5 linked regions of the Homo sapiens genome follow. The protein of the gene in region 1 purifies or fractionates together with the protein of each later gene. This does not show direct contact. Each region holds a gene or a part of one and is shown in the gene's direction. Other genes may lie near its edges.

Region 1 (3,205 bases):
TCACTAAATTGCTATCCTCCTTTGGAGAAGCTGCTTAATCATTTAAACTCAGAAAAATTAATATCCTTTTTCTTCTGTATATGGTCACATTTGATTGCACTGTTGTGAGTATTTATTTGCTTGTTTAAATTAAAGCTCTCACTATGTTGCTTAAGCTGGTCTTGAACTCCTGGGCTCAAGCGATCCTCCTGTGTAGGCCTCCCAAAGTGCTGTGATTACAGATGTGAGCCACGGCCCCCAGCCTATAACCCTTTTTTAATCCAGAACAAATGATTAGATTAAAATGGAGTATTATTTATTTTATATACAGGGCCTTGCTTTGTCACCCAGGCTGCAGTGCAGTGATATGATCAGAGCTCACTGCACCCTCAATCTCCCAGGCTAAAGTGATCTTCCTACCTCAGCCTCCCCAGTAGCTGGGCCCACAGGTGCATTCCACCATGCCCAGCTAATTTTTGTATTTTTTTGTAAAGACAGGGTTTCACCATGTTGCCCAGGCTGGTTTTGAACACCTGGGCTCAAGTGATTCACTCGCCTCCTCCCAAAGTGCTGGGACTACAGGTGTCAGCCACCACATTCAGCCTTTTTTTCCCCCAAGAAGTGGTGCCTAACTTCACTCAGGCTGGAGTGTAGTGGCAGGATCACTGCTCACTACAGCCTTGACCTGGACTCAAATAGTCGTCCCACCTTACCTTTCTGAGTATCTGGGACCACAGGTACGTACCACCACGCTTGGCTAATTTTTTAAAATTTTTAATAGAGAGGAGGTGAGCCACTGCACCTGGCCTTAAGATAAATCGTTTTTTAAAAATGTGTATGGGCTGGGCCTGGTGGCTCACACCTGTAATCCTAGCACTTTGGGAGGCTGAAGCAGGTGGATTGCGAGGTTGAGATTGAGACCATCCTGGCTAACATGGTGAAACCCCGTCTCTACTAAAAATACAAAAATTAGCTGGGCATGGTGACGTGTGCCTGTAGTTCCAGCTACTCATGATGCTGAGGCAGGAGAATCGCTTGCACCCGGGAGGCGGAGGTTGTAGTGAGCCGAGATCTAGCCTGGTGGCAGAGCGAGACTCCGTCTCAAAAAACAAAACAAAACAAAACAAAAAAAACAGTGTATGAAGTTCTTAGGCTTCATAAGAACTTCATACTTCTTATGAAGGTATGAAGTAGGCTAAGATAAATAACTCTGAGGCTGGGCGTGGTGGCTCACGCTTGTAATCCCAGCACTTTGGGAGGCTGAGACAGGCGGACTACCTGAGGTTGGGAGTTCGAGACCAGCCTGACCAGCATGGAGAAACCCTGTCTCTACTAAAAATACAAAATTAGCCGGGCATGGTGGCACATGCCTGTAATCCCAGCTACTCGGGAGGCTGAGGCAGGAGAATCTCTTGAACCCAGGAGGCAGAGGTTGCGGTGAGCTGAGATCGCACCATTGCACTCCAGCCTGGGTAACAAGAGTGAAACTCCATCTCAGAAAAAAAAAAAAAAAAGATAAATAACTCCTGTTGCTTAAAGGCATAATTATTCATTGAATGCCATAAAGATCCTTATTTTTTTTTTGTGGTCCTGTAAGTCAAATTACAAAATGTTAAATAATAATGTCATAAATTTATGCCATTCCATATTGTGCTAAATATTTCTTCCTTAATTTATTTTACATCATTGATCTTCCATCAAGAGAACATGAAAGTCTTTGCCACATATTGGGTGACTTTCAAAGAGAATAAAACACTATTTCCCTTGCCTTTTCATACTAGGGCAGTATCTCCTCTAGCTAGTGCCCATACAGAAAATTCTATCACCATACAAAATTTAATGCAGTATTTATGTTTTAAAGCACAGGTGTACCGAAAACTGTGAAAAGTCTGAATTTATGGGTTCTATGCATGCATTTTTGCCTAACCTAGAGAAAGAGTTTGATAAATTTTTACCAGCTTTGAAGATGGATTAACTTTTGACTTTGAGCTTTAAACTTTTAAGTCAGACATTTCAGGACTAATTTGATTTTGTAGATATCATTGTAAGAACTTTATTTGAAAGACTGAATAAAGGGATTTGATTTGTTTTCATCATTTAAGCACAGTCTTGTGATGATGAGAACATAAGTGTGATTCTTTTCTGTATTTTGAGGTCCCTAATCCAAAGCCCATTTTGCTAGGATTTTTTCTGCTATCAGATGTGTTTTCACTCTAAACCTAGTCTTTTATGACATGAATTGATTACTTCCTGTTAATTTTCTATCCTCCCTTACTATCCTCCTTTTTTGTTTTCAGTATTCAGTATTTCAGTATTCTAGAGTAGATTTTGATATAAAAGAAAATAATTCTTACATCATCTTTTGCAACAAATTTTGTTTTCTGAATTGATAATAAATTTAAAAAGTTGATTCCTATTTTCACATATGTTCATATGCCCCTATGTTTGGGGGTATCACTCAGTTTTCCCTTTTTTGTGTAAAGATGTTTTGTAAAACAAAATTGTCTCAAAGTGATTATATTATATATATAAAAAGTAACAGATTTTAACAAAGGTTAAAAGATTCTTGGGGTAACAGATTCTTCTGGGGCTTGGAAATCTTCCATTTCTCTTGAGGGTTTTTTTTAATGAGTGTTAAATATGTTAAAATTTTTATTTCTACCTCATGTGTTTTTTTAAATTATTACTTGAAGTTTTTTATTTAATAAATTTTTTCTACTAATGGATCTTAACTGTGTCAATTATTATTAATACTGAATAATAATTAAACTCAGGGTTATCTAGCATGTTTTGTTTTTTTTTTTTTTGAGACGGAGTCGCCCAGGCTGGAGTGCAGTGGTGCGATCTTGGCTCACTGCAAGCTCTGCCTCCCGGGTTCACGCCATTCTCCTACCTCAGCCTCCCGAGTAGCTGGGACTACAGGTGCCCGCCACCACGCCTAGCTAATTTTTTTTTTTGTATTTTTAGTAGAGACGGGGTTTCACCATGTTAGCCAGGATGGTCTCCATCTCCTGACCTCGTGATCCACCCACCTCGGCCTCCCAAAGTGCTGGGATTACAGGCGTGAGCCACCGCGCCCGGCCGCATGTTTTCTGATAGTGACAAGTGAAGTATTGATCATGCTAGAAAGCTGAAACCAAGCAGCATTGATATTATAAAGAGATTTATGAAGGGCACACAGGATGGGCTTGATCATGGAGAGGGGTTATAGATTAGATAGGACAAA
Region 2 (5,311 bases), on another chromosome or scaffold:
GTATTTCTCTTGCTACCAGATCAAATTCATACCAACCATCTTGAGGGAAATCCTATTCATAGTTAAGGTTGTTCACTGAGGAAACAAATCTGAAAGTCATTGTTATTTATCAGGCAGATTAGTAGAATTCAAGTAATACATTAGAAGATAAATTAGAAACTCAGAAAATTGGTACATCCTTTTGGATTTTTCAGATTCTGACATCAAAATTACACTGATCTATTAATCTAATATATACATAAAAGAACTAGCTGGGTGCGGTGGCTGACTCCTGTAATCCCAGCACTTTGGGAGGCTGAGGCGGGTGGATCATTTGAGGTCAGGTATTCGAGACCAGCCTGGCCAACATGGTGAAACCCCGTCTCTACTGAAAATACAAAAATTAGCCGGGCATGGTGGTGGGCGCTTGTAATCCCAGCTACTCAGGAAGCTGAGGCAGAAGAATCGCTTGAACCCAGGAGGCGGAGTTTGCAGTGAGCCAAGATTGTGCCACTGCACTCCAGCCTGGGCAACAGAGCAAGACTGTGTCTCAAAAAAAAAAAAAAAGAACTGTACGTATTTACACTAACATAGAGATTATACTTATGTCTGTGAATCTATGTAAACAAGCATAGTAAAAGATTTGGAAATTCTGATGCCAAGATTGTATCTATGGTTTCTGAATAGGTTTATGAGTATTCATTATTCTTCATCAATATTTTATGATATTTTTCCATAACGAGCGTATGTCATTTTTGTAACAGGAACTATTACAAAATGGGTAAAATGGCATTAATCTGCAGATAAATGCAGCTAAAGAGCTTCTACATAGGGAAATTCTATAAACACTTGAAATTTGTGAGAAAAGTAGATGGAGCCTGTTAACTATAGCAGTGGCCCCGATAGACACTCCATTTGGCACATTTGCTTTCCAATTATTCTCAAGATCAGACATAATTAGAAAGACATCAATATATTTAAATATGGGCAATAATGATTCACAATGAGCTAACTATTTTAGGTTTATATTTTTCCTCAACATATGCTTCCCCATAAATTTATCAGAGCGTTATTTGAACAAAATATAGAGATTTAATAAATATTTGAAAAGTAACAAGGTTCTTTACATACTTTTTAAAAAAATACTTTTTGTTCCCAAAGTACCTCTACTTCATATTAGTTTTTATGCATAATCTACTAATTAGAATGTATTAACTCATTTTTACAGAAAATCAATGGTTTTATTTCTTTGCAGTGAGCCCCATGCACGGTTCTATGCAGCTCAGATAGTGCTAACATTCGAGTACCTCCATTCACTAGACCTCATCTACAGAGATCTAAAACCTGAAAATCTCTTAATTGACCATCAAGGCTATATCCAGGTATGACTTTAACACATTATGTGTACTGTATATGAGAAAATACTAGGCAAGACATTGTATGTATGTAACCCCAACTTGGAATTTTTTTTGAAGAAGACACTTTCTCCTAATAGTTTAAGTAGAGCTCAGAGTTTTGCTGCTATTACAGAGAAGCAAAAATCCTGTTATGAAAGGAACTTGTTTATATCTCCATTAATCTATAGTTGTGAACTGAGTATAGCCTCTTGCATAAGGAGATATTAATAGCTAAATCTATGAGCAGTTATTAGTGCCAGGCATATTCCACTTGTTTTACATGTATTATTTCTTTAATCCTGATAAACCTATGAAGTGGAAATACCATTGTTATCTTCATTTTAAGATTAACAAAACTAAGACATAGCAAGGTCATTTAGCCAATAAATGGTAGAGTCAGAATTTGAACCTAGGCAGTCTGATCCCAGAGTCCATGCCCTTTACGACTACAATATAACTGCCAAAGAATCCCTGACTACCAATACTGAACTCGTAGCAACGTTTTCTTTCCACTTCTACTACTAATAAAGTGGGAGCATTTCTTTTTACACAATTATTGATAGATTCTCCCATTGACGTTTTTACACTTCTGATGGTGCAACTAATGGCAGAGGACACATTGGGGTAAGGCAGACATTTAGCATTGTTTCATTTTTATTAATGCTATTTATTTTTACCTTTTATTTTCACTTTTTTATTCCTTGGGTCTAGGATCTTATAATAATGACTGAAAAGAGTTTTGTTGTTATTAATTTGTTCCTTTTCTTTGAGTTGAGGAAGGATTTCCAACTTGGATTGTTTAAACTTTCATTCACTAGATATTCATGAATGAATTTCAATTACGTGGACTTAATTTTTTTTCCATTTCTTTCATAGTTTCAATTTGAATTTTAAACTTTCAACGTAGGTGCAATAAATACATTTATTGTGAGGTAATACATTTTCACTAGTATTCTTTTTTTCTTTTATAGGTCACAGACTTTGGGTTTGCCAAAAGAGTTAAAGGCAGAACTTGGACATTATGTGGAACTCCAGAGTATTTGGCTCCAGAAATAATTCTCAGCAAGGTATATTCATAATATCAACACATAAGAAGTAGAAATATGAGACATGCATCCCTATGGACTTTTGTAAAAACAGTTTATTGATCTAATTTTACATTTTTAATTTGATCTAAGTTATGAATTTAAATCTATTTGTGCATGATTACTAAAGAATTATTATTTAGCATCTACCACTAATCCTGTAACCTCTGTCAATTTTAACTCTGGGTCTTAGAGATATAATATGAATAAATATGACCTCTAGATCCATGTTTTGCAACCAAAAACATAGTCTTTTCTTAATTATTCCTAGTAACGGAAGGGTAGAGAAGACTTGCTCTGGATTATACCAAGAGGTAAATCTAGAGATGATATGTACTAGTTGTCCATTCTTTCTTTGTTTCAAATTTACCAGTTAAATAAAAGGAATGTATGAGAAGTGTTTTTAAATTTTAAATAGGACTATTAACAGCAATTGAATAGTTTTAGTCTTATTGAAGGCAGCTCTGCTTTTCTAAATAGTGAAACGTGGTGAGAGAAACTGTACCTATATCCAAAAGAATGGTTAACTTTTCCTCTGCCATCACTTGGTGGAGAAATCTAGAAAGGAGAACCTAACAATAACCAGGCACAAATAGGAGAGAGGAAAAGGAAGGGGATAAGACACATGCTTCACTGGTTCCCAAATGGAATCATTGAAATATGGCTAACTTATAGAAGTGTTAAAATAAAAGATTTCTTTCAACTTTTCTCTCATTATCTTTCATAATTTAAATAATATGTAACTTCTTGATATTTTATAATCTAAATATCATTGTAGTTAACACATTTCTTTAAATACAGTTAACAAATAATGGGACAACAAAATGAGCACTAAAACTTTTACAAATGTGTATATATTGTAAAAGTAATACTCATTATACAAAATTTAGAAAATACAGAAAAACATAAACAAACAACCAAAAAAAAACCTATATGTAATCCCACCAACCTAGACGCAGCCTTTTTAAAAACATTCATATATGTATGTACATATATGTATATATGTGTATATGTGTATATATATACACCACATATATGTGTATATATGTGTATATATATACACATATGTGTGGTGTGTGTGTATATATGTATATGTGTATATATACATATATATTCATATATATGTGTATACGCATATATGTATATATGTATATGTGTATATATACATATATGCGTATATATACACATATATACGCATATGTATGCATATATATATGCGTATATATGCATATATGTATATATATGCGTATATATGCATATATGTATATATATGCATATATATATATATATACACACACATTTTAGCTTTATTTTAGCTTTCATTTTAGGTTCAGGGATACATGTGAAGGTTGGTTACAGACGTAAACTCATGTCATGGGGGTTTGTTATACAGATTATTTCATCACTCAGGAATTAAGCCCAGTACCCATAGTTATCTTTTCTTATCCTCTCCCTCCTCCCTACCTCCACCCTCAAGTAGAATCCAGTATCTGTTTTTTCCTTCTTTGTCTTCATAAATTCTCATCATTTAGCTCCCACTTACAAGTGAAAACATGTGGTATTTGGTTTTCTGTTCTGCATTAGTTTGCTGAGGATGATAGCCTCCAGCTCCATCCATGTTCATGCAAAAGACATGATCTCATTCCTTTTTATAGCTGCATAGTATTCCGTAGTGTATATGTACCACATTTTCTTTGTCTAGTCTACAATTGGTGGACATGTAGGTTGATTCCATGTCTTTGCTTTTGTGAATAGTGCCACAATGAATAAACAAATGCATGTGTCTTTATGATGAAATGATTTATAATCCTCTGGGTGTATACCCAGTAGTGGGATTGCTGGGTCGAATGGTAGTTCTGCTTTTAGCTCTTTGAGGAATCTCCATACTGCTTTCCACAATGGTTGAACTAATTTACACTCCTACCAACAGTGTCTAAGTGTTCACTTTTCTCTGCAACCTTGCCAGCATCTGTTATTTTTTGACTATTTGTTTATTTATTTATTTATTTATTTATTTTCTGGAGATGGAGTCTTGCTCTGTCGCCCAGGCTGCAGTGCAGTGGCGTGATCTCGGTTCACTACAACCTCTGCCTCCTGAGTTCAAGCGATTCTCGTGCTTCAGGCTCCCAAGTAGCTGGGACTACCGGCATGCACTACAACACCTGGTTAATTTTTGTATTTTTTAGTAGAGACAGGGTTTCACCATATTGGTCAGGCTGGTCTTGAACTCCCGACCTCAAGTGGTGCACCCTCCTTGGCCTCTCAAAGTGCTGGGATTACAGGGGTGAGCCACTATGCCCTTCCATTTTTTTACTTTTTAGTAATAGCCATTCTGACTGGTGTGGAATGGTATCTCATTGTGGTTTTGACTTGCTTGCATTTCTCTAATGATCGGTGATATTGAGCATTTTTTCATATCTTTGTTGGCCGCATGTATGTCTTGTTTTAGAAAGTGTCAGTTCATGTCCTTTGCCCACCTTTTCATGGGGTTGTTTGTTTCTTGTAAATTTGTTTAAGTTCCTCATAGATGCTGGATATTAGACCTTTGGCAGATGCATATGGTTTGCAAATATTTTCTCCCATTCTGTAGGTTGTCTGTTTACCGTTGATAGTTTCTTTTGCTGTGCAGAATCTCTTCAGTTTAATTAGATCCCACTTGACAGTGTTTGCTTTTGTTGGAATTGCTTTTGGTGTCTTTGTCATGAAACCTTTGTCCATTCTTATGTCCAGGGTGGCATTGCCTAGGTTGTCTTTCAAGGTTTTTATACTCCGGGGTTTTGCATTTAGGTCTTTAATCCATTTTGAGTTGATTTTTGTATATGGTATAAGGAAGGGATCTATCTTCAGTCT
Region 3 (4,748 bases), on another chromosome or scaffold:
GATTTGAAAGATACTCATTTGTAAATATAAATTTGTCTCAAAAGATCAACATGATACATCCATGAAGTCACTAAGTTGATTGGTATAATGGGTGTCCAAATTATGACAGTCAGACGTTTAATTCATCCTAGTTGAGCTAAACTGAAAGGCCGATGTTGCTGGCCTCTGTTATTGGAGAGGCAGAGTGGGCAGGCAGTGGAGCACTGCAGCTGCACCTCCGTGGGAACGAAGCCCGTTTCCAGTGTAACTGCTTTAAGTCTGCATCATTGAGTAGCCACACATTTGGGGAAAGGATGGCTGATACGTCATGCTGCTCTCTGAGAAGCCACTGAGGCTGTGCTCCCAGCTCTGCCCCAAATTGCTGCCTGAACTCTGGGCAAGTCACTTTCCCTCCCTGTGAGCTGAGGTTATCGACTTGGTGCTTTCTCTTGGGTACTTCCCACTTAACACCAAACCTGCACCCATTCACTTGCCCACCATGAGTGTCTTTGAGCTGTGGCTTTGTGGCCTGTCTTTCCTCCTGAAATAGGCATGGTGTGCGTTGGTGGGGGCGAGTGTCTGCTGGGAAGCTTTTCTCAGCAGCAAACAGAACTCACGAGTCTCATTGATGTTGCCACCTTGCCGGCTAACGTGGCCATCCCCAGTGAACACGCCTCCTGAAGGGCTTTGTTTCCTGTTTGCTTCCAATCATATCTTCAGCATTGAAAAATCTTTCCTGTCCCCAGTTCATTATGAGTCGGAGGTTTATTTTTTCTTTGTGTTTTTTTTTGTTCCAGTTTATTTTAAATGCATATTTTAGTTGAATTGCTTTTTTAAAAAGCCCCCTCTGGCCTCCTGATTCCAGCTAGTGTCAGCAGTGGGATACCTGCGCTTGAAGGACATCATCCACCGTGACATCAAGGATGAGAACATCGTGATCGCCGAGGACTTCACAATCAAGCTGATAGACTTTGGCTCGGCCGCCTACTTGGAAAGGGGAAAATTATTTTATACTTTTTGTGGGACCATCGAGTACTGTGCACCGGAAGTTCTCATGGGGAATCCGTACGTATGCGGCTGCGGTGCGGCCCGTCCTCGTGTCCTCTGTCAGGACCCTGAGGGTGGCTTGATTTTGGGTGGGAAAATGGCTTCCTTTGTGCCTCTTTGTGATGAGTGTTGAGTGGTCAGGGTGATATGCTGGAAAGTAAGTGGGCAGGCAGGCAAGGTCATATTGGGCAAAGGCACTGGGCGATGGATATAGGAGTTAATAATTTTATTTTCTCAGCTTTTATTTGTTTGGAGTTTCATATAATAAAAAGCCAAGAAAAATATTGAAGAGTCCCCCAAAATGGCACTCTTCAAATAAGTGAAGAGGATTCTTTTTAGTTAGGTTTATTTATTTTGATGACAGGAATAATATCTATTTCAATAAAATACCGCGGGGCTGACCATACAAGAAATCAAGCACTAGAGAAAGTCCCGAGGCAGAGGATTCGTGCTGAAGGTGGAGCCCTTGGCTGGAGGGGCTGTCGCTGACCAGCCAGACTCCATGTCACTGGAGTGGGCCAGCTGAGCCTCTGCTCTGCTGTGGGGAGAAGCGGCGTCCTTGGGTGTGTGGCTGAGTTTGCATCTCTGCAGTCTGGGGAGCCTGTGAGTCGGGGGCCGGCCTGGGCAGGGCCTCCTCTCGGGGGACTTTAGAGAGGAAAGCAAAACGGAAAGGAAGATTGTGGTTCATTTGTAGGGCCTGAGTGGAGACTGTCTGCTGACGTGCCCGATCACTGTCTCATCTGCCTGTAAACCAAATGTGTCTATGTGTATGAAATAGACTTTATTAAGTCAGAAATAGATAGCAGGTGTTTTCCACTAACACCTACATGTATTTTAGAGAGGTGTGGTTGGAATGCATCTCTAGGTGAGTTCATGGTTAGAGAGTCGGATGATCACAGCACTGCTTGGACCCTCCTGGCCCTCTGCTGCAGTGCTCTGCTGCACCGCCCATATCTGCTCCATGTGGTTCTCTAGGAGGGAAGCTGATGCTGCCCCCACAGGAGAGGCACACGGGGTCCCTCACAGACCTGCTGCACCTGACCTGGTGGCCTGAGGCCAGGGCATTTGCTCGCAGTCACGCACGAGCTCCATGCCGTGCCTTGGGCTCTCGGGAGGGCCTCAGCATTGGGGAGAGGAGTGGCTGGGCTCTGGATCCTGGTGTCTGCTTAGGCCATATTTCATTAGGAGGTGCAGGTTCCAGGCTGCACACCCTGAGTCCTCAGAGCCCAGCAGCCTCAGCCTGCGCCAACCTCTCCATGCCAGGCAGCGTTGAGCTCTTCTGGGCCTGGATGCCCTGTGTGCAGAGTATGGAGGAAGTGAAAATGGGCTCTTCCCCGCTAGAACCTCCATGCATCTTCAGAGCCACCAAACAGCGTGAAATATCGAAGGGGGTTGGTCTAAGAAGGGCCGTGGAGTTTCCCTTCAGATCTAGTTTGGTTGCCCTAGAGCCTGGTGGGCGCTGGTGGGCTCTGCCTGCCCTGCAGTGGTTGTCGTGCCCTCCGTGCTGGAGGGAACTGCCTGTCCCCTGTCCACTGACCCATGATGCCTGCTGCATGGCTTGTCACCCCTTCCTGTACCCAGGCCGTGAAGCTTGGGGAGGGTGCAGGGGGGATCCAACCTGGGCGAGAGCTCAGTGCTGCTTGGCCACCTTGGCCCTGCCTCCCAGAGCTGTGGCTCCCACCCTCTCCCTGAGCGCCTGCCCTGCCAGGGCTCTGCCCTGCCTCCTGGCCTCTCCTTTCTGGCTGTGAGCGGTGTACTGCTCCTGGGCCTGCGGGGCTGCAGGCCTCCTCTCAGGAGCTCCTTCCTCCCTCCTGCGTCCTCTCCCCATCTCCCTGGATGAAAGGGTTTCTGAGTTCTTATTCTCAATCCCATCCTCAGGGCCCTGGCTTCTGTCTTGTCATCTTCATCTCCGTCTACTCCAGGGTCGGCAGACTGTGGCCTTAGGTCCCTCTTCCCCTTCCTCAGGCCCTGGCAGCTGCCATTCTGCTATTTTCTCTATGAATCTGACTACTCTAGGGACCTCCTATACGTGGAATCGTACAGCATTTGCCTTTTGGTGACTGGCTTATTTCACTTTGCATAAAGTCCTCAAGGTCCATCCATGTTGTGGCCTGTGCCAGCATCTTCCTTTTCAAGGCTGAATTTGATTGCGTTTTCTGGATATGCTGTACTTATTCATCTGTCAGTGGACATTTGTGTTGCTTCTACCTTTTGCTTCCATCTTTATGTTGTTCGTGATGCTGCTACAAACGTGTGTGCAAACATCCCCTGCCTCTTGTTTCTATAAATAAAGTTTTATTGGAATGGAGCTGTGCTCATTTGCTTATGTGTCGTCTGTAGCTGCCTTTGTCCTACATGACAGAGTTGAGTTGCAGTGGGGACCATGTGGCCCAAAACCTGAAATATTTACTATTTGACCCTTCACAGGAAAAGTTTGCCAACCTCTGTTCTGTTCTATTGGATATTTCTCTTCAGCTTCTAAACATCTTGAAATCTCTCTAAAAAACAGAAACAACACAAAAACAAAAACTGCTGAAACTGATTTTCTTGCTCTAGCCCCTACAGCTCTCATCCGTCCGCTCAGCTTCCCTGCGGTCTGTGCTAGCCACCCCACCACCCTGCTGACTCAGCCTGGGGGCCCGACTTTCACCCACGCTGCTGCTCTGGCCTCTGTGATCTGCCCTCTTGAGCCCTCCCCTCCCCTCCCCTCCCCTCCCTCCCAGCCCCTCTTCTCCGAGTCCAGCCCGGGGCTCTGTCCGTGCCACTCTTCTCACTGCTGTGGTTTCTCTTGGCTCCCTTGTCTAATTCTGGTTCTGAGAACAGGCTGCTGCTTCCCAGACCTCTTCTGGGGACAGACCCCCAGCTGCGGACCTGGAGACGCATGGCCTTGGCCAGTGCAGGGGCAGGGCTGTGGGTGCTGGTGACCTGGCTCTGGTGCGTGCTTGGCAGCAACTTCACCTCACCAAGCCTTGCTCTTCTGTGCAAAATGAAAGTCATATTTATCTTGCTAGGTTGTTGTGAGGATTTGGGTTAAGCCATGTAAAATGCTGGTACAGCATTGGCATCTCTAGGTACCCAATAGATGGTAGCATGGATGAGGATGTTTACGGTGACAGGAAATAAATGGTAGCATGGATGAGGATGTTTACGGTGACAGGAAATAAATGGTAGCGTGGATGAGGATGTTTACGGCGACAGGAAATAAATGGTAGCGTGGATGAGGATGTTTACGGTGACAGGAAATAAATGGTAGCGTGGATGAGGATGTTTACGGTGACAGGAAATAAATGGTAGCGTGGATGAGGATGTTTACGGCGACAGGAAGTAACAATAGTCCTTTGGGTGTCTTCTCCCTGAAGCTTGCTCCTCCATTTGGCCCACTGTGTGAACACCCACCTTCACCACGTCCTTCTTGTTTGCTTTCATCCTTCGGTGTTTTTCCCTGTTCAGTCTCGTCCTGCAGCACCCTTCACATCGTCGCCACAGCCATCTTCCTAAAGGGCATGTGTGTCCATGGTCACACCAAGCCCGTTCACACCAAGATCGTGAACATGCCTGATCACGTCTGAAGGGCACGTGACCCTGTTCTGAAGTGGCCTGCAGCTCCCGTGGCCCTCAGCAAAGCCAATGGACGTGTACTCTGCTTCCTCCAGGAAGCCCTCCCCCCGCTCCCCCCTCTGGTAGACACGTCTTGTGGTTGGTGTCCACAAGGAAGTTCCTGA
Region 4 (5,311 bases), on another chromosome or scaffold:
TTGGTATTTTGCATGGAATTGCATTGAATCTTTATTTATTTATTTATTTATTTGAGACAGAGTCTCGCTGTGTCGCCCAGGCTGGAGTGCAGTGGCACAGTCTCGGCTCACTGCAACCTCCGCCTCCCGAGTTCTAGTGATTCTCCTGCCTGAGCCTCCAGAGTAGCTGGGATTATAGTCATGTGCCACCACACTCGGTTAATTTTAATTAATTAATTAATTTTTTTGAGATGGAGTTTCACTCTTATTGCCCAGGCTGGAGTGCAATGGCGTGACCTGGGCTCACTGCAACCTCCACCTCTCGGGTTCAAGCGATTCTCCTGCCTCAGCTTCCCAAGTAGCTGTGACTACAGGCATGAGCCATCACGCCCAGCAAATTTTGTATTTTTAGTAGAGACGGGGTTTCTCCATGTTGGTCAGGCTGGACTCAGAACTCCCCACCTCAGGCGATCTGTCCGCCTAAGCCTCCCAAAGTGCTGGGATTACAGGCGTGAGCCACTCTGCCCAGCAATTTTTATATTTTTAATAGAGATGGGGTTTCACCATGTTGGCCAGGCTGGTCTCGAACTCCTGACCTCAAGGGATCAGCGCTGCTCAGCCTCCCAAAGTGCTGGGATTACAGGCATGAGCCACGATGCCTGGCCACGTTGAATTTTTTTTTTTTTTTTTTTTTTGAGATGGAGTCTCACTCTGTTGCCTAGGCTGGAGTGCAATGGCACGATCTCAGCTCACTGCAACCCCCGCCTCCTAGGTTCAAGCAATTCTCCTGCCTCAGCCTCCCGAGTAGCTGCGACTACAGGCATCCACCACCATGCCTGGCTAATTTTTTGTATTTTTAGTAGAGACGGGTTTCACCATGTTAGCCAGGATGGTCTCGATCTCCTGACCTCATGATCCACCTGCCTTGGCCTCCCAAAGTGTTGGTATTACAGGCATGAGCTACCGCAAGTGGCCTGTTGAGGATTTTTGTGTCTTTGTTCAACAGAGATACTGGCCTGTAGTTTTCTTTTTTGTTGTGTCTTTGCCTGGTTTTGGTATCAGGGTAATGCTGGCTTTGTACAGTGATTTAAGAAGAGTTTCCTCCTCTTCGATGCTCTGGAGTAGTTTGAGCAGAATTGTTGTTCTTTATATATTTGGTAGAATTCAGCAGTAAAGCCATCTGGTCCTAGACTTTTCTTTGTTGGGAGATTTTTTGTTACTTATTCAGTCCGGTTACTCCTTACTGTTCTATTTCTTCCCGGTTTAATCTTGGTAGGTTGTATGTGTCCAGGGGTTTATCCATTTCCTCCAGGTTTTCCTATGTGTTAGTGTACATTTGTTTATAGTAGTCTGTGATGATCCTTTGTATTTCTCTGTTGTCTGTTGTATGTCACCTTTCTCTCTCTTTTTTTTTTTTTTTTTTGAGATGGAGTCTTGCTCTGTTGCCCAGACTGGAGTGCAGTGGCCTGATCTCATCTCACTGCAAACTCCACCTCCCAGGTTCAAGCAGTTCTCTGCCTCATTCCTCCCAAGTAGCTGGGGTTACAGGTGCCCGCCACCATGCCTGGCTAATGTTTGCGTTTTTAGTAGAGATGGGGTTTCACCATCTTGGCCAGGCTGGTCTTGAACTCCTGACCTCGTGATCCACCCGCCTTTGCCTCCCAAAGTTCTGGGATTTTACAGGCGTGAGCCACCGCACCCAGCCCCATGTCTCCTTTTTCATTTCTGATTTTGTTTATTTGGATCTTCTTTTCTATTTTCTTAGTCTAGCTAAAGATTTGTTTTCACTGCATATGCATTTACCTTCTTACATTATCTCAGACTTTCCTGGCTGCACAGACTAGATTAAACTCTTTATTTTCCCCTTGGTAACACCCATCACAGTTATTTCTTTTCTTTTTTTTTTTTGAGACAGATTCTTACTCTGTCGCCCAGGCTAGAGTGCAGTGGCACAATCTCTGCCCACTGTAACCTCCACCTCCCAGGTTCAAGTGATTCTCCTGCTTCAGCCTCCCAAGTAGCTGGGATTACAGGCGCCCACCACCGTGCCCAGATAATTTTCGTGTTTTTAGAGATGGGGTTTCGCCATGTTGGTCAACCTGGTCTCGAACTCCTGACCTCAGGATTTGCCAGCCTCCACCTCTCAAAGGGCTGGGGTTACAGGCACGAGACACTGCACCCGGCCCCATCACAGTTATTTCTTGCTTAACATAAAATCTACCCTACTAGGTGTCAGCTCCAAGAAGGCAGAGTCCAGATTTCCCCAGGGTCTAACACAATGCCTGCTATATAACAAGTGCTCAGTAATATTGGTGCAATTGAATTGGTTTGATTCAGTTATTTAAATTTTGTTTCCCCACCTCCACTCAGTTAATCTTTCTTACATGAAGATTACAACACTAAATTTTCAGTCTTAGGACATAAGGACAAATCATAATTTTACAAATAAAAGGGATTATGGGGGCTTTGAGAGTTGTGAGTTTAGATTTAAAATATAGATGTAATCTTTATCAACGACCTCATGTTACTTTTTTTTGAAAACCCTTTTATTTTGAAAAGTCATAAAGTATCATGAAGAATTACAGCATGCTCTTCATCTAGATTTCCCAACGTTAACATTAACATTTTGCTACAGTTGCTTTATATATCCTATGTATATATATGTAGAGGAAAAGATGCATCTTTTATCTCAATATTTTAGTATATATTTCCCCAAAACATGGATAGTCTCTTAACATAACCAACACAGATATCAAAATTAGGGAATTAACATTGATTCCATACTGTTAACTGTCTATAGAACTTATTCCTAGGTGGAAAGAGGAAAAAAAAAAAAGGACCCAAGATCTAATCTGAGATCACATGTCACATTTAACTGTCATGTCTCTCTAGTTCTTGTTCTGTGTCTTTCATGACATTTCATGACATTGCTTGACATTCATGCAGTACAGGTTTATTTTGTAGATGGTCTCTCTGGGTTTGTGGGATGCATTGTCATGATTAGATCCACGTTATGCATTTTAGGTAGGAATATCACAGAAAGGATACTGTGTTTATTTCAGTACATCATTTCAGAAGTCACGTGATACATCTCTGTCCCATTACTACTGGTGATGTGTAACTTTGGTCACTTTCTTGGTTAAGGTGGCATCTGTCAGTTTTCTCTATTGTAAAGTTACTTCCCTTCCTCCCCACTAATTGTTATTAATAAGTATCTTCTTTTTCTATTTTAATTAACTTAAATTTCTGGGTTTTTTTTTCTTTTAATACTTAATTTTGAGGTCCTGACCAAAGAGCAGATTTGTACTTGGAAGGAAAAGACCAGCTCGGGGGTTGGTTTCAGTCATCCTTATTAACAAGTGTGGCAGCAAGGAAGAGAGCACCTTATAAGTAAGTATTTATGCCTGAACCAACCTGCTGAGTACCTGCCAGTGTGTGAAGCACTATGCTGAGTACTACAGAGATGATAAGGCACCACTCTTGATTGCTTACAGTGTCCTGTAAGAATTTGAAGTAAAAAAAGAGAAAGGAAAAAGGAGACAACACCAAGGTGTCTTGTGAGTGTGATGCAGATCATAACTCTTTGAAGAAAAAGTCAGCATTGACTGGAGTAGTTGGGGGAACTTATGTAGTTCTTTGTTGTTGTTGTTTTTTTTTTTTTTTTTGAAAAAGGATCGCATTCAGTCACCCAGGCTGGAGTGCAATGGTGTGGTCAGAGCTCGCTGCAGCCTCCGTCTCCTTGGCTCAAGCAATCCTCCTGCTTCAGCCTCCTGAGTAGCTGGGATTACAGACATGCACCACCACACCTGGCTAATTTTTAATTTTTTTTTAGAGGTGCGTTCTCCTCCCATTGCCCATGCTGGTCCCAAACTCCTGGCCTGAAGCAGTCCTCCTGCCTTGGCCTCCCAAAGTGGTAGGATTATAGGCGTGAGCCACCATGCCTGGCCTAGAACTAGATCTTGATCTATGGTAAAACTTGACTAGGAGGAATGTAGGGAAGGATATTCAAGGTTGAGAGAAGACAGCCTGAGTGCAGATGTCCTTTATATTTGTAATATCCACAGTGGCTAGTGAACTGAAACATTGCTTTCATGAATTTTATTAAATTAGGTATTCTCATTTAGTACACATAATTACTTTTTCAAACGTGTGGGTGAAAGTACTAATCAGAAAGATTCCTAAATAGCTTAGCTTAAGATTGTGGCTCTCTTAGGATAAAAACCCATCCCAGAACATTTCACATGTTTCTTTTTTTTTTGAGATGGAGTCTTGTTCTATTGCCTAGGCTGGAGTGCAGTGGTGCGATCTTGGCTCACTGCAGCCTCTGTCTCCCGGGTTCAAGCGATTCTCCTGCCTCAGCCTCTCGAGTAGCTGGAATTACGGAGCATGCCACCATGCCCGGCTAATTTTTGTACTTTTAATAGAGACGGGATTTCACCATGTTGGTGAGGCTGGTCTCAAACTCCTGCTCTCAAGGGATTCACCCTCCTGAGCCTCCCAAAGTGCTGGGATTACAGGCGTGAGCCCCCACGCCTGGCCCTTTTACATGTTTTTGTTTCTTAACATGCGTTTTAAAGACCAGTAAAAGGGCAGATCCTATTTTTTTCAAATTGTCTTTTGAAAATAATTTTGAGATGATAATCTGCTCTTTTTAAGACATACTTTTTCCTGGTTTTATTTTTTCATTTAAAATTTTTTTTTTTTTTTTTTTTTAGTGAGTTATATAGTTTTTCCGCTATCACCACAAGAGGTTTTATAACATTTCCAACACACTAAAAAGTTTTCTCATGCCCATTTGTGACTAATCTCCACTCCCACCCCAGGGCCCCTGGCAACCACTGATCTCCTTGCTGTCTCTGTAGTTTGCTCTTTCTAACCTGGTTAGTTTTAATGATAAAATCAGTACATAGCAGAAGCTCAGAAAATAATCTGTTTAGTGATGAAAATATCTAAAGTTTTCCTTTGTGTAAGTCGAGAGTTAACTGTTTGACTATTGTGATACATGAGCTAAGAATGACTTTTTTTGTTTGAGATGGAGTCTTACTCTGTCTCCCAGGCTGGAGTGCAGTGGAACGATCTCAGCTCACTGCAATCTCCGCCTCTTGGGTTCAAGTGATTCTCATGCCTCAGCCTCCCAAGTATCTGGGACTACTGGCACACACCACTATACCCAGCTAATTTTTGTATTTTTAGTGGAGACAGGGTTTCACCATGTTGGCCAGGCTGGCCTCGAGCTCCTGGCCTCAAGTGATCTGCCTGCCTTGGCCTCCCAGAGTGTTGGGATTACAGGCGTGAGCCACTGCACCCAGCCGAATTTGACTTTTAAGGAAAG
Region 5 (4,702 bases), about 62 Mb from region 1:
CACATACATACACTTGGGCCCAGTGCTTCCTGGATCCTTTATGAATAGTTGTATAACTCATTGTTTTTATCACAGTATTAAGAGATCTGCCACCTTTAGTTCAACTTGAACAAAGACTTACATTGGGGTTTTTAAAAAGCATTAGGTTTACATTGGGGTCTTTTTTTGTTCTTCTTTCAAACATTCCTTTTTTGGTAATTGCTTCTGATTTATCCCGTCATTTAGTTTTTTTGACTGTTCCCTGTACCATAGACAGTTTCCTTGGGAACTTGTTTACTAAATAAACAAGATTTCCCTATGATGGTTTCAGTTTTATGGAAAGTCCAGTTTTTTTTACATGTAGCATTTTCTTTGGCCACCTTTGGGAATTGCACCTGTACCCTCAGGCACCCTGCAAGGATTTAGGCATACATGCTTGCTAATACCTGACCACCTAACGGTGAAATCGCTCTGAGTGGATACAGTTGGATATTCATGCAGTGATTTTTCATTTTTTGTACAAGTAATGTTCATTGTATGGTATAAAGCCACAAAGCTTTCATTGGCCTTTTGTACATTAAAAACAGCACCCTCTCTGAAATAAGTTTAAGTGTGGAAAGCATGTCTCTTGCTAAGGTGGAGGGAGCTGGCAGCGTGGTTGTTATCCGGCTGCTGAGCCCTCCAGCCTCCGTCCACGAGCACTACTACATCCTGCTGCACGGGCAGCTTCCAGGAGGTTAAGAAGCAGCAGCCTGGGGTGGGTTAGACATTAGAAGTGGGTAAGAGTGTTCAGTTAATGAAGGCTCGTGCAGATGGGGGTGTGGGTCTGATCCAGGGGTTGGCAAGTTGCAGCTGGCTGCCCATTTTTGTAAATAAAGTTATATTGGCACATAGCCACATCCCTTCATTTATACATTGTCTGTGGCTGCTTTTATGCTGACAGTTGCAGCAGAGAGCAGAACTGAGCAGTTGCAGCAGAGACTGTCTGGCCTGTAAAGCCTGAAGTGTTTAGTGTCTGACTCTTTAAGAAGAAGTTTGCCCACCCCTGGTCTAACCCAATATTGTCCGGAGAAAAATCCAGATAAAGTCATATGTTGGAATGACTAATTCTGTGTAGTACCAGACAGATTAAGAAGTAAAATCATTTCCATTGGTCTGTAGTACATTTTGTTAGCAGTGAAACGGTTTTCTTGATTATTTTAAAAACATCAAATGCATAGAGGTTTTACACTTTGATTTAACTGTATTTCCAGTTAAAATGTCTTCTCTTTTTTGCAGTGTTGAATATGAAACATTCGATATATTGGAGGATGAAGAAGTAAGTTCTGTGTTTGATGTTTCACCCTTGTCTTAGCTTTAATCTTAAGGGCCTGATAGGATGGTTTCAGGATTCCTGTTGTTTCTTTAGGTTCGGCAAGGATTAAAAGCTTACTCAAATTGGCCAACATACCCTCAGCTGTATGTGAAAGGGGAGCTGGTGGGAGGATTGGATATTGTGAAGGTAAGGCCAGTTCTTCTGCTGTTCTAAAGAACGGAAAAGATTTTGGTATGTTTAAAAATGATTTCATATTGAATGGAAACTTGAGAGTTGTTTTTGACTCCTGTTTCCAGCCTGACTCTCAGACATTTCTAGACCAGTATCACCGTTTCTGTGTGCATGACTACCCTGCCATTCTCACTGTCCCCACGTGGCAGCCTGTTCTTACTTTCACACCTGAGCTAACCATTGCATCTCCTTTCTGTGGGGTGATCTTCCCTGTCACTCAGGGTCCTTGTTAGATCCTGCTTCAGCTCCCAGACAACAAATTGTTTTTTCTTGCCTTACTCATCTGCCCTTGGGTGCATGGAGTGACAGCAGTGTGAGGCCTGTGGCCCGGTGCTGCCCATCCTTGCCACAGAGGCTGAGGATCACTGCCCCTGGTCCCCCGAAAGAAAAAATGTAGGTCCTTTTTGGTTTTGAGATGCTTGGAAATCTGTTATCTGTTAGATTGTGTTTTAGATAAGACACCATTTCTTATGTATCTTGAGTCCTTCCTGATGCTTTGTGTATTTTAGGAGTTCAGTAAATGGTTGTTGGATGGATAAGTGACTTTACTTCTTGATTGAGTTTTAAATGGACGTTACTTTGCATGTATTTAATGTCTAGAATTCAGGGCAGGCCCACCAACTAACACCTGTGTGCTCTGTAGCTCTTTGATTAGCCCAAAACAATAAACAGAAGCTGTAGCTTTAATATCTACACACAGACCCCACTGCACCCCAGGCCCACTGTGGGCATGGTGGCATCGAGGAGGGTGGTAGCTGGTTGGGTATAGAGAGGAGCTAGACAGGAATGCTGGGCAGGAATGCCAGGGTCTGCTCAGGGGCATGAACAAAACTGCCCCGAAAAGTGGGTTGCTGACTGCCCTCAGGCCTTCCTCTTGCCTCAATCCATGAGAGAATTTTCTGAGGTCAGATCTTCGACTTTTTATGTGGAAAACAAATAGCAAGTAGTACTACTTCTAGTTATGTTGTAAAATAAAAGTTTTTTTTTTTTTTTTACATTTTTTTTTGAGAGAGTTTCGCTCTTGTTCCCCACTGGAGTGCAATGGTGCAATCTCGGCTCACTGCAGCCTCTGCCTCCCAGGTTCATGTGATTCTCCTGCCTCAGCCTCCTGAGTAGCTGGGATTACAGGCACCCGCCACCACGCCCCACTAATTTTTGTATTTTTAGTAGAGATGGGGTTTCACCATGTTGGCCAGGCTGGTCTTGAACTGCTGACCCCAGGTGATCCGCCCACCTTGGCCTCCCAAAGTGCTGGGATTACAGGCATGAGTCACCGCGCCTGGCCAAAATAAAAGTTTTTAACACGTGCTTTTGTAAAGTGAAGCACTAGCCTACCACTGAAATGACATCAGCACTTTGGACCAATATGTTTTATAAAAACAAAGCTTGAGTTCCATTGATGCAGAGGCTCTTTTTGTCCTTTGGTGGCCTCTGTGTAGGTTTTGTTTCCTGTGGAGTTCCAGGTTTGATATCATACTTCTTAAACAAGCCAGTGAGACATTTTTCCTGGGGAATGGTCTCACTCCTGGAGGAAAAAATTTTTAAGACTATTGCTCTTGAATAGCCCTGAAGCAGCAGAAACAGATCTGCATTTGTTTCTTCCCTCCCTCCCTCCTTCCCTCCCTCCCTCCCTCCCTCTTTCTCTCTCTCTCTCTCTCTATATATATATATATAGTCTTATTTTTGTAAGACACAAAGAATACTCAAACCCCAAATACTCTTGAGCCTGTTCTTGTCTGAATGTTTTATAGCCTGTACCTTAGCCATTGGTAACTCTTGGGAAGATACAATCAATAAATCTCATTTAATTCTAAAGCTAAGCTGCGTGGGTAACTTCTTTTTAGTTATATAACAGAGTGTTATATGATTTTTTATGTTCACCTGCTAAGAACATATACGTTTGAAATGTGTGATATTGTTAACGTTTTTCCTTGAGAAGATATATGGAATAGATCTTACGATCCCATTTTGATCTGTTTCTTGCAGAATGCAGTTCTTCATGTTCAGTTCAATTAAAAGATGTTTGAAATGGTCTAATCTGGCTGGCCTCTTTGGAGCAATGAGCGTTTGTTTTGTTGAATGAGGGACTGAATGATGATTTAGTTACTCAGCTAATCTAGTGTCCTGAGAAAATTGTGAGTTGTTATTGCCTCTGAAGAGTAAACGGTTCACTACTGCTGTTCCAGAATGTTTGGACTTAAGACAGTTTGTTGAGAGAGATAGAAGATTTGGTTAGGTTTAGACTTTCCACCTGCCGGCTCGCATTAACAGCAGTGAGGGTGGCGAGGACTGCCTTATTTGGCGCGCTCCCAATGTTCCAGGCACACTGCTTTGGTGCTTTAAGAGGCTGCTTCACGTAATCTCCCAAGCAGCCTCAGAGAGCAGAATTCTTCTTAGTCAGTAGATGAGGAAACAGAGACATAGAGAGGTCAGGTGAATTGTCCACCATCCCATAACTAGTAAGCCATTGAGTCCAGATTCCACCTGAGGGCCACCTGCCCTTGCCCACTCAGCTGCGTGGTCCTCTCCGTGCCTTCTTGAGTGTGTGCTCAGAAAAGTCCTGCTGGGTCCCTTGGAGGGGCAGGGTGTCTGCTTGTTGAGTAGGTAGAAGAAGATCCCTAGACATGACTGAAAGCCGTCTGGGTTTTGTGTGACAGCATCATTCCTATTTGAATTTCATCCAGAGGAGGTCATACGGATTTTAATGGTTTTATTGATTGATGTTTATGCTGTTCAGTGATAACCTGAAATGTTATATCATACTAAATGTTTCTTTAAACCAGAAAATCTTATTTATCATGTCTGTCCTTTCAAGCTTGGTGTCTATAATCCAGATTTTAAATCTGAAAAACAGGCACAAGGAGCATGGCGCCTGTACTGCAGTTCCAGTCAACCTGGTGGTAGCTCTTTTGATGCCATGTCTGTTTCTGAATTGTTAGGTCTTTTTAATGGTTTCTGCCTTTCCCTCTTACTGGTACTCTAGCTTTTCCTGAGGCAGAGATGTGTTGCCAGGTTGGGTTTCAATAGCAAAGCCTGATTCCTCTCTGTGAGTGGAAGAACGGGAGGGGAACAAGCATCATATTTGAGTAGACTTTTAACGTCACACTGCTTTTTTTTTCTTCCTTTTTTTCGAGACAGAGTCTCACTCTGTCACCCAGGCTGGAGTGCAGTGGTGCA

Evidence for each region.
Region 2: the proteins of DNA2 (region 1) and PRKACB purify together in Homo sapiens (affinity purification with mass spectrometry; 2 studies listed by BioGRID and IntAct, with this or other methods). This does not show direct contact.
Region 3: the proteins of DNA2 (region 1) and PASK purify together in Homo sapiens (affinity purification with mass spectrometry; one large-scale study listed by BioGRID and IntAct). This does not show direct contact.
Region 4: the proteins of DNA2 (region 1) and IARS2 purify together in Homo sapiens (affinity purification with mass spectrometry; one large-scale study listed by BioGRID and IntAct). This does not show direct contact.
Region 5: the proteins of DNA2 (region 1) and GLRX3 purify together in Homo sapiens (affinity purification with mass spectrometry; one large-scale study listed by BioGRID and IntAct). This does not show direct contact.

What each region holds. Positions count from the first base shown.
Region 1 is NC_000010.11:68,413,564-68,416,768, reverse strand, and holds the end of DNA2 (DNA replication ATP-dependent helicase/nuclease DNA2), read left to right. Parts: coding exon 1-60; intron 61-1,661; coding exon 1,662-1,730; 3' UTR 1,731-2,705; downstream 2,706-3,205. UniProt on the Homo sapiens protein: Key enzyme involved in DNA replication and DNA repair in nucleus and mitochondrion.
Region 2 is NC_000001.11:84,195,382-84,200,692, forward strand, and holds part of PRKACB (cAMP-dependent protein kinase catalytic subunit beta), read left to right. Parts: intron 1-1,234; coding exon 1,235-1,361; intron 1,362-2,347; coding exon 2,348-2,443; intron 2,444-5,311. UniProt on the Homo sapiens protein: Mediates cAMP-dependent signaling triggered by receptor binding to GPCRs.
Region 3 is NC_000002.12:241,108,536-241,113,283, reverse strand, and holds part of PASK (PAS domain-containing serine/threonine-protein kinase), read left to right. Parts: intron 1-844; coding exon 845-1,044; intron 1,045-4,385; coding exon of another isoform or gene 4,386-4,585; exon of another isoform or gene 4,586-4,748. UniProt on the Homo sapiens protein: Serine/threonine-protein kinase involved in energy homeostasis and protein translation. Phosphorylates EEF1A1, GYS1, PDX1 and RPS6.
Region 4 is NC_000001.11:220,131,142-220,136,452, forward strand, and holds part of IARS2 (isoleucine--tRNA ligase, mitochondrial precursor), read left to right. Parts: intron 1-3,260; coding exon 3,261-3,369; intron 3,370-5,311.
Region 5 is NC_000010.11:130,173,610-130,178,311, forward strand, and holds part of GLRX3 (glutaredoxin-3), read left to right. Parts: intron 1-1,257; coding exon 1,258-1,297; intron 1,298-1,387; coding exon 1,388-1,480; intron 1,481-4,702. UniProt on the Homo sapiens protein: Together with BOLA2, acts as a cytosolic iron-sulfur (Fe-S) cluster assembly factor that facilitates [2Fe-2S] cluster insertion into a subset of cytosolic proteins.